3 linked regions of the Homo sapiens genome follow. The protein of the gene in region 1 interacts with the protein of each later gene in a biochemical or structural test. Each region holds a gene or a part of one and is shown in the gene's direction. Other genes may lie near its edges. The genes, in order: STXBP4, DGKK and DOCK4.

Region 1 (3,654 bases):
ACTTTAGTGTGTACTATTTGGGATTCATTGAGCTTCCCGATTCGAAGAGCAATGTCTTCTGCCATTTCTGGAAATCACTAAGCTATTATCCTGAGCGATTTCTCTTTCATTCTTTGTATTTGTTCTTGTGTAATTCAGATTGGATGTGTGCTATAGCTTCTTCTGGCTGTTTTCTCTTTACCTTTTCTCCCCATTTGTATTTCAATTTTTGTCTTTCTGTTCCATTATGAGAAGTTTCTTTACCTCTGTTGTCAAGTTCACCCATTCTCTTTATAATTGTATCTAACTGGATGTCAAATCTATAAATAAAGTTTCTAATTTAGTTATGTTACATTTTTATTTTTGAGATGTATTTTTTATGTTATCTGGATCTATTTCAATAGTTTCTTGTGTATTATACTTTCAATTCCCTCTTATTTTTAAAAACATATTAAACATAATTGCCTTATATTTTGTATCTGCTCACTTAAATATCTGCTGTCTTTATAGATCTGATACTGTACTTTATTTCCTTCAGTTAGCTTTCATTCATAGAGCTTATTTTCTCATATGTTTAGTGATTTTTGTTTGTGTCTGTGAGATCATGTTCTATCAATGCATTATAAGTGGGAATTCTTTGAGCTCTGAGTTTTAGAAATATCTCTCCAGAGTTTTGAGTTTGCTTCTGCTAGCCTGGGACCAATTTAAAGTAAAATTTCAGCATATGGCTTTTTAGGCCACACAGATAATGTAAATTCTGGCCCCAAACCTGTGTGAATGGGGACTTTTGGTTAGGAATTATTCAGGAGAAACTTTTTTACTCAAGTCACCTGAGCCAACATCAAAACACTGTTTACCTCTGTGAAGTTTACTTCTTCCCAGTTCACCCATTGAGTTTCTTCTGTTTTCCATTTGTGACTGTTGAAACCCCAAACTGTAGGCCACCAGGGATCAGCATATACCCTCCGAACAAATAATGCTTCAGTGCTCTCTTACCCCAGTGGGCTCACTTGGCATCGCTGTTGCATGTCTCCATGGAATTCCTTTACTTCCTTGCTAGCTTTGTCTTACATCGTGTGTGTGTGTGTGTGTGTGTGTGTGTGTGTGTGTGTGTGTGTATCCAGCATTTTTAGTTATGTTAAATTAGTAGAGGTTTCTGTCAGCATCTGGTAAGACACATTGCAAAAACAAAACAAAACAAAACCATAAACTAATTTAAATGTATTTTACTATAAGAATCAATAAACTCATATACAACTTATCTCATAAAACTTGCAGTATCTCTGTGCAAATTAACTTTTAAATATGCAGTTAGTTACATGCCCCCCAAAATCAAAACATATGTACAGTAAGAGAAAAAGATAATTTGGTAATATTGAATATTAGTTCATAAAAACTGAAAATAGGGACCAGTAATGTAAAACTGAAGAAATGTGTAAATGCTCCTTTTGATATCTCTGTGCAGGAAAGTGTTCAGGATTTAAAAAAGAGAATCATGGTACTCGACTGCCAATTACGAAAATCAGAAATGGCTCGAAAAACTTTTGAGGCATCCACTGAAAAGCTTCTTCATTTTGTAGAGGTAAGTTTTTCTGTTCTATTACATTCATCTTTAAAAAATATATAGGCAACTGGCATATAGATAAATGTTACTGTATTTGGTACCTAGTGAAACATTCTCTAGTCTCAAAGCAGCAATGCTGGCTTATGGTCAGATTTAGAACTGCATACATGATGAAAAGACTGGCTAACATTTTATAGATTGTTTAGAGAAATAATTGAGACAAGGTGATGGGATTCCAAGTATATACTATTTTAATGAATACTTTACCAAAAATCCTGATAATGCATAAACATTATTTGATAACTACTTACCTTATAAAGAAATGTTTTCATAGCTGTTATATTTCTGAGTAAAACTGCATGTTAGTTCAATTGTTTGCACCCCCGCTACATAATAGAAGCATCAGTTTAATCCGTGGACAGAGGAGGTTATAAATATTAATGAAGAAAAGATATTTTTTAAAAACTGTCAAACTGATATATCTCCTTCACCATCTTGTTTGTTGCTAGGCTATTCAAGAAGTATTTTCTGATAATTCTACTCCTTTATCAAATTTAAGGTAAGAAAATTTAAGTGCTTTTTGCAGAATATGGGTAGTGATTAAATTCTTCATCTGGTCATTGTGACTCAAATACTAAAAATCTCTTAAATAGTCCTAAGGTGCTACATAACTCCCATTGGATGCCATCATATGGAAATAGATGCAAGGACATATTGTTTTGTGTCCCATCTCTGTTAAAGAAATTCCTGGAGGTATTTAGTCAATCATTGTAACCTTGTAATCTAAAATTATGGTAGAAACCACCTATCCTGTCTTTATCAAAAATTCTATAAAGATGAGATTAACTTAAAATTCTGTAATTGTCTTGCGTATGAATCAAAGTTACTGGTCACAGGTTCACTACTAAAAGTGTCTCAACCCAGCAGGTTAGTTGTTCTGGCAAACAGAATTTTGGAAAACATATTCATGCAATCATTTTCTTTCGTTTTCATCTTTCAGTAGCTATAAATAAAAGAAATATATTTGGAGAATATACCTCGATTGTCTCATTATTCATAATATGTTTTGGATTTAAAGTTTCTTACTAGAAGCTGGAAACATACTAATCAAATTTATTTATTTCAAACCACAAGTTTATGGTCATTTTGATACATGATGAAAGACATTTACAAAAGAAAGATTCTTGTTTATGCATTTCCAAAGTAATTTTTTTCTGCTCTCATAATAGCTGCCACTAGTCCTAGATACATCTTCTACTTCTAGCAATATACGCTTGCAGAAACAGGAAGACTCAATGAGGTTGGGTGTGATGGTGCATACCTGTAATCCCAGTATTTTGGGAGGCTGAGGCAGGGGGATCACTTGAGCCCAGGAGTTTGAGACAAGGAACATAGTGGCACACAGTGGGACCCTATCTCTACAAAAAAAAAAAAAAAAAGAAATAGCCAGATGGGATGGTGCATTCCTATATTCCCAGCTACTTGGGAGGTTGAGGCAGGAGGATTGCTGGAGCCCAGGAGCTCTAGGAGATTGAGGCTGCAATGAGCTGTGATCATACCACTGCCCTCCAGCCTGGATAACATAGTGATGCCCTGTCTCAAAAAGTAAATAAATACTCTACCCTTTACTGTGAAAACAGCAGCTTAATAAGTGAAGATATTTTTGGTGTCCACATAGCATTTTTTAATTTAGAAGAATATTTATAATTCACTTCTAAACTCAAGTAATGTTTTACTTCTTATGATGAAGGAACCTGACATAACTTCTTACTCTCCTTGCTGCTTATGATACAAGAAAACTCTGTGAATTTCATGATTATTACTCTCAGTAAGGATCTTAAAATAATCAGTAATCACATTTATTTCTTTATGGGCTAAGTGTGTCACCCACCCTCAGCTTTCCAAGGTCTTAGTTTTACCTTGACTAATAATTCAAAAGTTTTGTTTTAAAAATTAAGGTTAAAATGACTATTTAAAAGCCAGAGCCTGCCCTTGCCTTAAACTGCTTCATGGAAAAAAAGACAACTTTAAATAGCTACATCACGCAACATTTCATGGTGTCTTAGTAAATTAAACACTAGTAAAAACTGGTGCAGTCATTTCAATATAGC
Region 2 (3,654 bases), on another chromosome or scaffold:
GCACAACTAGGGTAGCTGGTGTGTACCAGCCAGCTACGCTCATAGCTTTTTATGAGCATTGATGTCTGAATATAGCCTGTTTCTTCCAAGTCTGGACCAATATTGGTAGCAAGCAGAAATGGAAAATTTATTTATTGATAGGATACTGAGGCTTCAAAGGGGCCCAGGAACCCATTTCTTCAAGTGTTTGCATTGGATATCAGTTACATTAACCGCTGTCCAGTTGCCATTTAGCATGACTCCTCTCTGTAAGAAGGCATTTGAGAAGTAAGATGGTTTTCCTTCCTGTCTTTTTCCACCATTTATCTATATATCATTCACCCTCTGCTTTCTTAATGCTTACCTCCATGTAGTAGCCGCCTTAAGAACAAGATGTGGTATGGCCTTCTGGGAACCAAAGAACTTTTGCAGCGCTCTTACAGGAAACTGGAAGAACGAGTGCATTTGGAGGTTAGTGGAAAAGCGGGTAGTCTTTCCTGGGTATGGAGAAAGGAAATCTCATGGCCTTGGGAATACCGTACATGCTGATTCTTCCTGAGCTTTAACTCTGTGATCCTCACAGCTCATGGGAGGAAGGCATGAAGATAGATTTCCATGTAATGGAAGAGAAGACAGAGCCCTTTCCCCATCTCTGTAAATGTTCCTTCATGTTGCTATCTAAAGATCCAGCTAATGAGAGCTACTCTTTTCTTTCAGTGTGATGGAGAAACCATCTCCTTGCCAAACCTGCAAGGCATTGTAGTGCTCAACATTACCAGCTATGCTGGAGGTATCAACTTCTGGGGAAGCAACACAGCAACCACGGTTAGTATGGAACAAGGAATGGGGAGGAAGAAAGGCATGATCCCACTAAGGTCTCTCTGAAGGAAGCATTGTGCTAACTGAAGTGAAAAATAGACAATGGGAGAAGAGGAGGTGGTCCGAGAACCTTTATTAGCAGCAGCTGTATGATCAGTTTTTCAGGCAATTACCATCCGAAAGCAGAAAATTCAACCAAAGACCTCAGGATAAGGTCAACTCGTAGGTGTTGCCTGGGCTTTGGATTTTCCATTCCTCGGGTCTGACAGATCCTTTAAAGGCTATCTAGACCATGCTTTTTTTTTTTTTTTTTTTTTGAAACGGAGTCTTGCTCTGTCATCCAGGCTGGAGTGGCAAGATCTCAGCTCACTGCAACCTCCGCCTCCCAGGTTCAAGTGATTCTCCTGCCTCAGCCTCCCGAGTAGCTGGGATTACAGGCGCCAGCCACCATGCCCGGCTAATTTTTGTATTTTTAGTAGAGACAGGGTTTCGCCATGTTGACCAGGCTTGTTGACCTTGAACTTTTGGCCTCAGGTGATCCACCCACCTTGGCCTCCCAAAGTGCTGGGATTACAGGTGTGAGCCACTGCGCCCGGCCAAGGCCATGCTCTTTTCTCCAAGGAATTCTGTCAGTAAAATCTCCTGGGATGCTGACCATGACCCCTTTACTCTGAGTTTACCCAAGAAGGTCATAAGGCCAATAAGACTGGCCTCAGGTATTTATGATGCTGGATTGGAAAAGGAGGGAACTGGCTAAGAGTGCAGTACCCTTTTCCCAGATTGGCTTTCTGACCTCATCTTTTTCCCTTTTAATAATGAAGTGTTTCCACTCTTCATGAGCTAGAAAAATTCTCACCAGGAGCCTTTAAACATGCCTTCTTGTTATAGACAGGGTGTGATTTCTCAAGGGTGGGAGATGTGACACAGTTCTTCCTCCTCAGGAATATGAGGCTCCTGCAATCGATGATGGGAAACTGGAGGTGGTGGCAATCTTTGGTTCTGTGCAGATGGCAATGTCCCGTATCATCAACCTGCATCATCATCGCATTGCCCAGGTAGGCAGGGGCTGGGTGGGCACTGGGAAGGGGCTGAGGTTTTTGACTGCTACCCAGGATGTGGGATAGTCCCAGGAATTAACTGGGTAGAAGAATGCCAGGGTGGAGTGAGCAGGTTATCTGGTGGGCAGTAAAGTGCTGACTGAGGTTGGAGGCAGAGGTGGCAGAAGCCAATGGAGCAAAAAGCCCATAGGAAACAGGCATTTCTTCCTGGGATGATCTGATTCACATCCTTTCCAGTCCTGCTTCAGATACACATTCAAGGCCATAACTATGAGATTATCAGATAGAGTTACAGCAGTTGCCCCATTTTTCTCTCCCATTCTTCCTCATTTTCTCTGGCAGTGCCATGAGGTGATGATAACCATTGATGGTGAAGAAGGTATCCCAGTGCAGGTGGATGGGGAGGCCTGGATTCAGAGACCAGGCCTTATCAAAATTAGATACAAGAACGCTGCCCAGATGCTGACAAGAGATCGGGTAAGGGGGAAAATCTTGTCTTGGGCTCCTATACTGCCTCATCCATAGTCACTTGAGTACTGAATATTTCCACTCAAGCAGAATTCCTCAAAAGGAGGTCTGTGTGCCCCTGGCATCAGAGTCACTTGAGATGCTGGTTATAAATGCATTCTTGGGCCCCCACACCAGACCCACTGAACCACATAGGGTTGCATAGTTCCCAGGAACCCAAATTTGCAAACAGGCTCCTCAAGACACTCTGATATATACTGACATTTGCAAACACTGTCCAAGAGAGTGAGACAAGGAGCTTCCTCCCCTGGTTTTCGACAAGGTTATCCTCCTCTTTCCACTGCAAAGAGAGCTAAAAGCGTCAGATGATTATGGAAAAATCTTCTCCTTCAGCAACAGATTCTGCATTGAACATGGTCTTTAGGTGTCTCTAAGGTTCCTTAAAATGCTGCATTAATACATGTCATCCACTTCAGCTAAAGCTTCTAAAGCTTATAAAGGAGCTATTATTGATCACATATTCAATGCTTGGAGGTTATCTTGCACTCTAACCTGTGAAAAGTCCATGGAAACAGCAATAGAGAAAGGAAGAGAAGTCCAGTTTATAAACTGCCTATTCTGTGCTAGGCATTTTACATTTCTCTCATGTAGGTTCTCTCCACAATCTTATGAGGTGGATACACTTATTCCCATTTTACAGATGAGGAAAATGAGGACCAGAGAGGTTAAATAATTTGCTAATGGTCACACAACTAGTAAATGACAGAAACACGATTCAAAATTAAATTAGATATGTTTGGCTCTAAACTGCATCACCACATATTGCCTACATTTGGCAAAGAAGGGAGCATGAAAGGTGCTCCACTGTCTTGTCAGTCATGATGCCTTCATATGGGAGCTTCTAGAAACCAGACATGTGTATGATCCAAGCCTGGTGTCCCAAAATCCAGCATACTCAGAACAACAAAAACTAAAGGGCATAGTCCAGAAGAGATTGAATAAAATGATGGATACTTGTATAGGTATATAGATGGGTATGACAGGGGGAATGGACAGGGGGCCCTCCTTCCCCTCTACCCACTGTACCCACATACCCATTGCCCACAAACGTCAGGCTCACAGACAGATCTGTCATGTGCACTAGTAGCTACAGCAATCATTAGGATATGCCACTGTATTCATCTCCAGGACTTTGAGAACTCAATGAAAATGTGGGAATACAAGCATACTGAAATTCAAGCTGCCCCTCAACCCCAGCTGGACTTCCAGGACTCTCAAGAGAGCCTCTCTGACGAGGAGTATGCCCAGATGCAGCACTTAGCTCGGCTTG
Region 3 (3,654 bases), on another chromosome or scaffold:
CATCCAGATGGACATAACTACTGGGCTTTTCCACATGCTCCATCATGAGCAGTGTAGAGATTCATCAGCCTTCTTGCAGGGAGGATGGGCAGGCTCATCCTGACTCATTTTCTGGACCCCTGTAATCTGTTTTCCAGCCCTACTTAAATGGGCCCTAGTCCTCATTCTCCACTGCTGCCACTTGGTAGCCAGCATAGCCACCTCCTTCCTCCCCACACTCCTCACATTGAGCAGGGTCCTGATGGCCCCTGCAACTGCCTCACTTTAAAGGAAGGGAAAGAGAACACAAAGGAGGAGTGAGAGCTGGGATGGGGGTGGAGTGGGAAGTGAGGAGTGAATGGCAGGGGAAATGCACGAGGGATTATGAAAGAGAAGATGCCAGGGAGGGGAGGCCTCCTGAAGTGAGATGCAGGAAGTAGGAAGTAGGTAGGAGGGAAGCAGCAAACTGGGGAGAACAATAGAGCTTTGCCTTTGTCGCCCTGAGTCTCACTCTGTGGAAATATCTGATATGCCAAATATAACCAATCAGTTTTAAAAGGTTTCAGTCATACCCCAGGATGTCTGAATTACATCTGAATAGTCAACATTTTCAGGGTTTTTGGTTATGAAAACATCATAAATCTCTTTTTCAAAGTCAGTATTTTTAAAATCACTTTATTTTTCTCATTCTAATTCCTCCTCCTCCTCTTACCCGTGTTTGTTGCAGATAAACATTCCTGTTTGGTACTGAATTCCTTACTATTAATAGTAAATCCTTTGTGAGGTTTTTCTCTTGAATCTGGCTTTGGTGGAGCTTGCTTCTCTTTCTCCTTGAGATTCTTAATGCTTTTTCTCACTGGTGTTCTCTATATTCTCTTTTTCTTTCTCATCTTACCTACTTCCTTGGTTTGGGGGGTTTGGAGTTTTTGTTCCCTCATCATCTTTCTGTTTCTCAGAAAGTCCCTTTTGGGTTTCTGCTAAAACAAGTGATTTGAAGTAAATTTCCTGCTTCCCTGCCTGGAAATTCTGTCCTGGCTCCTCTCTCGGCCAGTCTAGTCTGGCAACTCCACTGAGCCCTGAGGCCAGTTCTACCAGGTCCCGCTGCCCTGCGCGTGCTCGGCACACGCGAGCCTTCAGTTCTCACTGCATTCATTGGCCTCCAGATGCCACCTCTCCCTGCATGCGTTGGAGACTAATAATGCATGGAGACCATCTCCCACAGCCTTTGTAACTTCTGCCCAAGAAAGATAAATTTATTCCCTCCCCAGGTGAAGAGGTTCTCTAAGGACCTGCTGGACCAAAGCCCTCATGTCTGTTTAGGAAAGGGTTAAAGAGCTGGGCCCTGTGCTTATCTGGACTCTGGGATGAAAGATGGCCTGTGGAGTCCAGGAGCTGCTCTTCTCAGGTTGAGAGCTCCCTGGATGATCTAAGAAATCACTGGGCCTGTTACCATTCTTTTAGTCTGCAAGATTTGGGTCACATTGCCAAGAAGACCTTTGTTCCTGGGTGGAGTTGGTTGCTAGGCAGAGTGCTATGTGCTGGGCACCCAAACGGGAATAAAGCAGGTTCCCAGCCCTCAAGAAACTCTCATCTTTCCAGGAGGAGGCAGAAAAATTAATCAACAAATATTTGTCACCTGCCTGATTTGTAAGGATTTGTAAGTGCTACTGTGATGTGGAAGCATGTAGAAGGGACAGTTAGCTCGAGATTTCAGGAAAGGCTTCCAAAATGAAGCAACATCCGATCTGAGGACTAAAGGATGGGTAGGAGTTTGTAAGTCAAGAGCAGTGGAGAGGAAACAGAATACAGTGAAATAAATGCCATCCTAGAGAGGGCTAGTCATAGTTTGTGGGAGCCTGCAACTTGAGTGGCTAGGAGAGGGGAGCCACATGTGTTAAGAATTTTACTTTTACTAGCAGAACGCTTTCATGTGAGGACCTGTTCTCTATTAAGGCAATTAATCTTCCTTTTCTATTTTGAAAGGTGATATGCTTGATCTTTTGAAATGGAGAACCCACCCAGACAAGATCACTGGCTGTCTCTCTAAATTAAAAGAAATTGATGGCTCAGAGATAGTAAAGGTATATAGTATTTCATTACTATTTTCCTTGCAGAGATTCATAGAATAAAGAACATTTGGAGGAAAAAGACAGATAGTATCTTATTTACTCATTTGCTACTTCTTTATCTAACAGTTTCTGCAGGATACACTGGATACCTTATTTGGAATTTTAGATGAAAATTCCCAAAAATATGGGTCTAAAGTGTTTGATTCTTTGGTAAGTTCAAATTCCCTTAATTGTATTTTAACTGTTTTGTCTCTCAATCTTGACTTTCATGAGGCTGGTTCAGAAACATGTGCTTAATAATGTAAGAGTTCATTTTAAAAAGAAGCAAAAAAAAAAGGAAAACCTTGATTTGCATTTAGTTTTATAAAGCTCAATTTTCTTTTTTTAGGTTCACATAATAAATTTGCTGCAAGATAGCAAATTTCATCATTTTAAACCTGTAATGGACACTTACATTGAGAGTCATTTTGCTGGGGCACTTGCATACAGGTAAGGCCCTGTATCTTGTAATTAGTTTAGAAGTGGTTCCTTTCAAGCTTTTCTCAGCAGAAGAGGCGATATAGGAAAATTTAAAAGGGAGTGTAGGAAGAAATGGAGCACTACTGAAGTGTCTCTTGAGATAGTCTCTTCCCTGCTAACACACCCTTTTTAAATGGGTAGAACTTATTTTGATTAAAAAGGGAAAAAAACCTCCTGAATTCTATTCCTGAGCCCTAAAATATAAAGTCTTTCCTTCTTGTCTCTGTTTCACTGGATATTCTTTGGTCTAAAATGTCTGGTTATCTCACTTCGGCTGTTAAGAGTCCCACTTCATCACTGTACTCCCTGATGATTATAAATGTTCATAAGAAAGAAATATGAATGGAAAACAACCTTTTCCTTCACACCTGCTGAAAGTCATCCATTCATTTATGTTAGGATTTACTGAGTGCCAGCTGCTTGCCAGGCACTGTACTTTATGCTGATGATGTGAAGACCTGGTCCCTGGCCTCAGGCAATTTAGTCATTGGGATCTACTCTTTGATAGGAGCTGCTATTTTAACTGCTCCTCCTTTTCTACTGGCTCAGGTGGTGCTGAAAAGTTATGAATAATATTATGCTTTGGCTAGTGCCTGCCTCCTCTCAACATAGTTGATAATTGCCAGAGGCCACAGCTTCTCTCTTTTAGTTCGACAAATAACTGCTTAAATAGCCTTGGAGTGTACCCCATCGTCTGTCTCCCAGTCCAATATGGTCCTTGCTGTTCTCCCATATTTCTACCTTATACCTTAAGCACCTGTGGGCATGCACATGCCTGACTGTTCCCTGAGGTGAGTTTAAAAAGCATGAAATCAGGTTGATATCCTTCCCCCATCTATGTAATATATAAAGGTTAATAGGTTATCAGATAAGCATTTGATCCTGTTTACTTGGATATTCCCAGCCATGACAGGTTAAGATCGACGTCTCCAACATCGAAATGAATGAAGGTATTTTTGTTAGACTTGACACTTCATCAGTGTGATTTTTTGCTGAGAGTGAAATGCAACCGCAGGAATAGTTTTGAAACATCGGCCCACTCAGCCTAACAATTTGGGCCCTAGTGTGAGGAGGTTACTGCTTCCAA

What was found.
Region 2: the proteins of STXBP4 (region 1) and DGKK interact in a test that uses a peptide from one of them, tested with the Homo sapiens proteins (one large-scale study listed by IntAct).
Region 3: the proteins of STXBP4 (region 1) and DOCK4 interact in a test that uses a peptide from one of them, tested with the Homo sapiens proteins (one large-scale study listed by IntAct).

Annotation. Positions count from the first base shown.
Region 1 is NC_000017.11:55,076,634-55,080,287, forward strand, and holds part of STXBP4 (syntaxin-binding protein 4), read left to right. Parts: intron 1-1,444; coding exon 1,445-1,561; intron 1,562-2,052; coding exon 2,053-2,102; intron 2,103-3,654. UniProt on the Homo sapiens protein: Plays a role in the translocation of transport vesicles from the cytoplasm to the plasma membrane. Inhibits the translocation of SLC2A4 from intracellular vesicles to the plasma membrane by STX4A binding and preventing the interaction between STX4A and VAMP2.
Region 2 is NC_000023.11:50,376,777-50,380,430, reverse strand, and holds part of DGKK (diacylglycerol kinase kappa), read left to right. Parts: intron 1-353; coding exon 354-450; intron 451-696; coding exon 697-804; intron 805-1,739; coding exon 1,740-1,853; intron 1,854-2,198; coding exon 2,199-2,333; intron 2,334-3,512; coding exon 3,513-3,654. UniProt on the Homo sapiens protein: Diacylglycerol kinase that converts diacylglycerol/DAG into phosphatidic acid/phosphatidate/PA and regulates the respective levels of these two bioactive lipids.
Region 3 is NC_000007.14:111,870,873-111,874,526, reverse strand, and holds part of DOCK4 (dedicator of cytokinesis protein 4), read left to right. Parts: intron 1-1,962; coding exon 1,963-2,060; intron 2,061-2,174; coding exon 2,175-2,258; intron 2,259-2,436; coding exon 2,437-2,537; intron 2,538-3,654. UniProt on the Homo sapiens protein: Functions as a guanine nucleotide exchange factor (GEF) that promotes the exchange of GDP to GTP, converting inactive GDP-bound small GTPases into their active GTP-bound form. Involved in regulation of adherens junction between cells.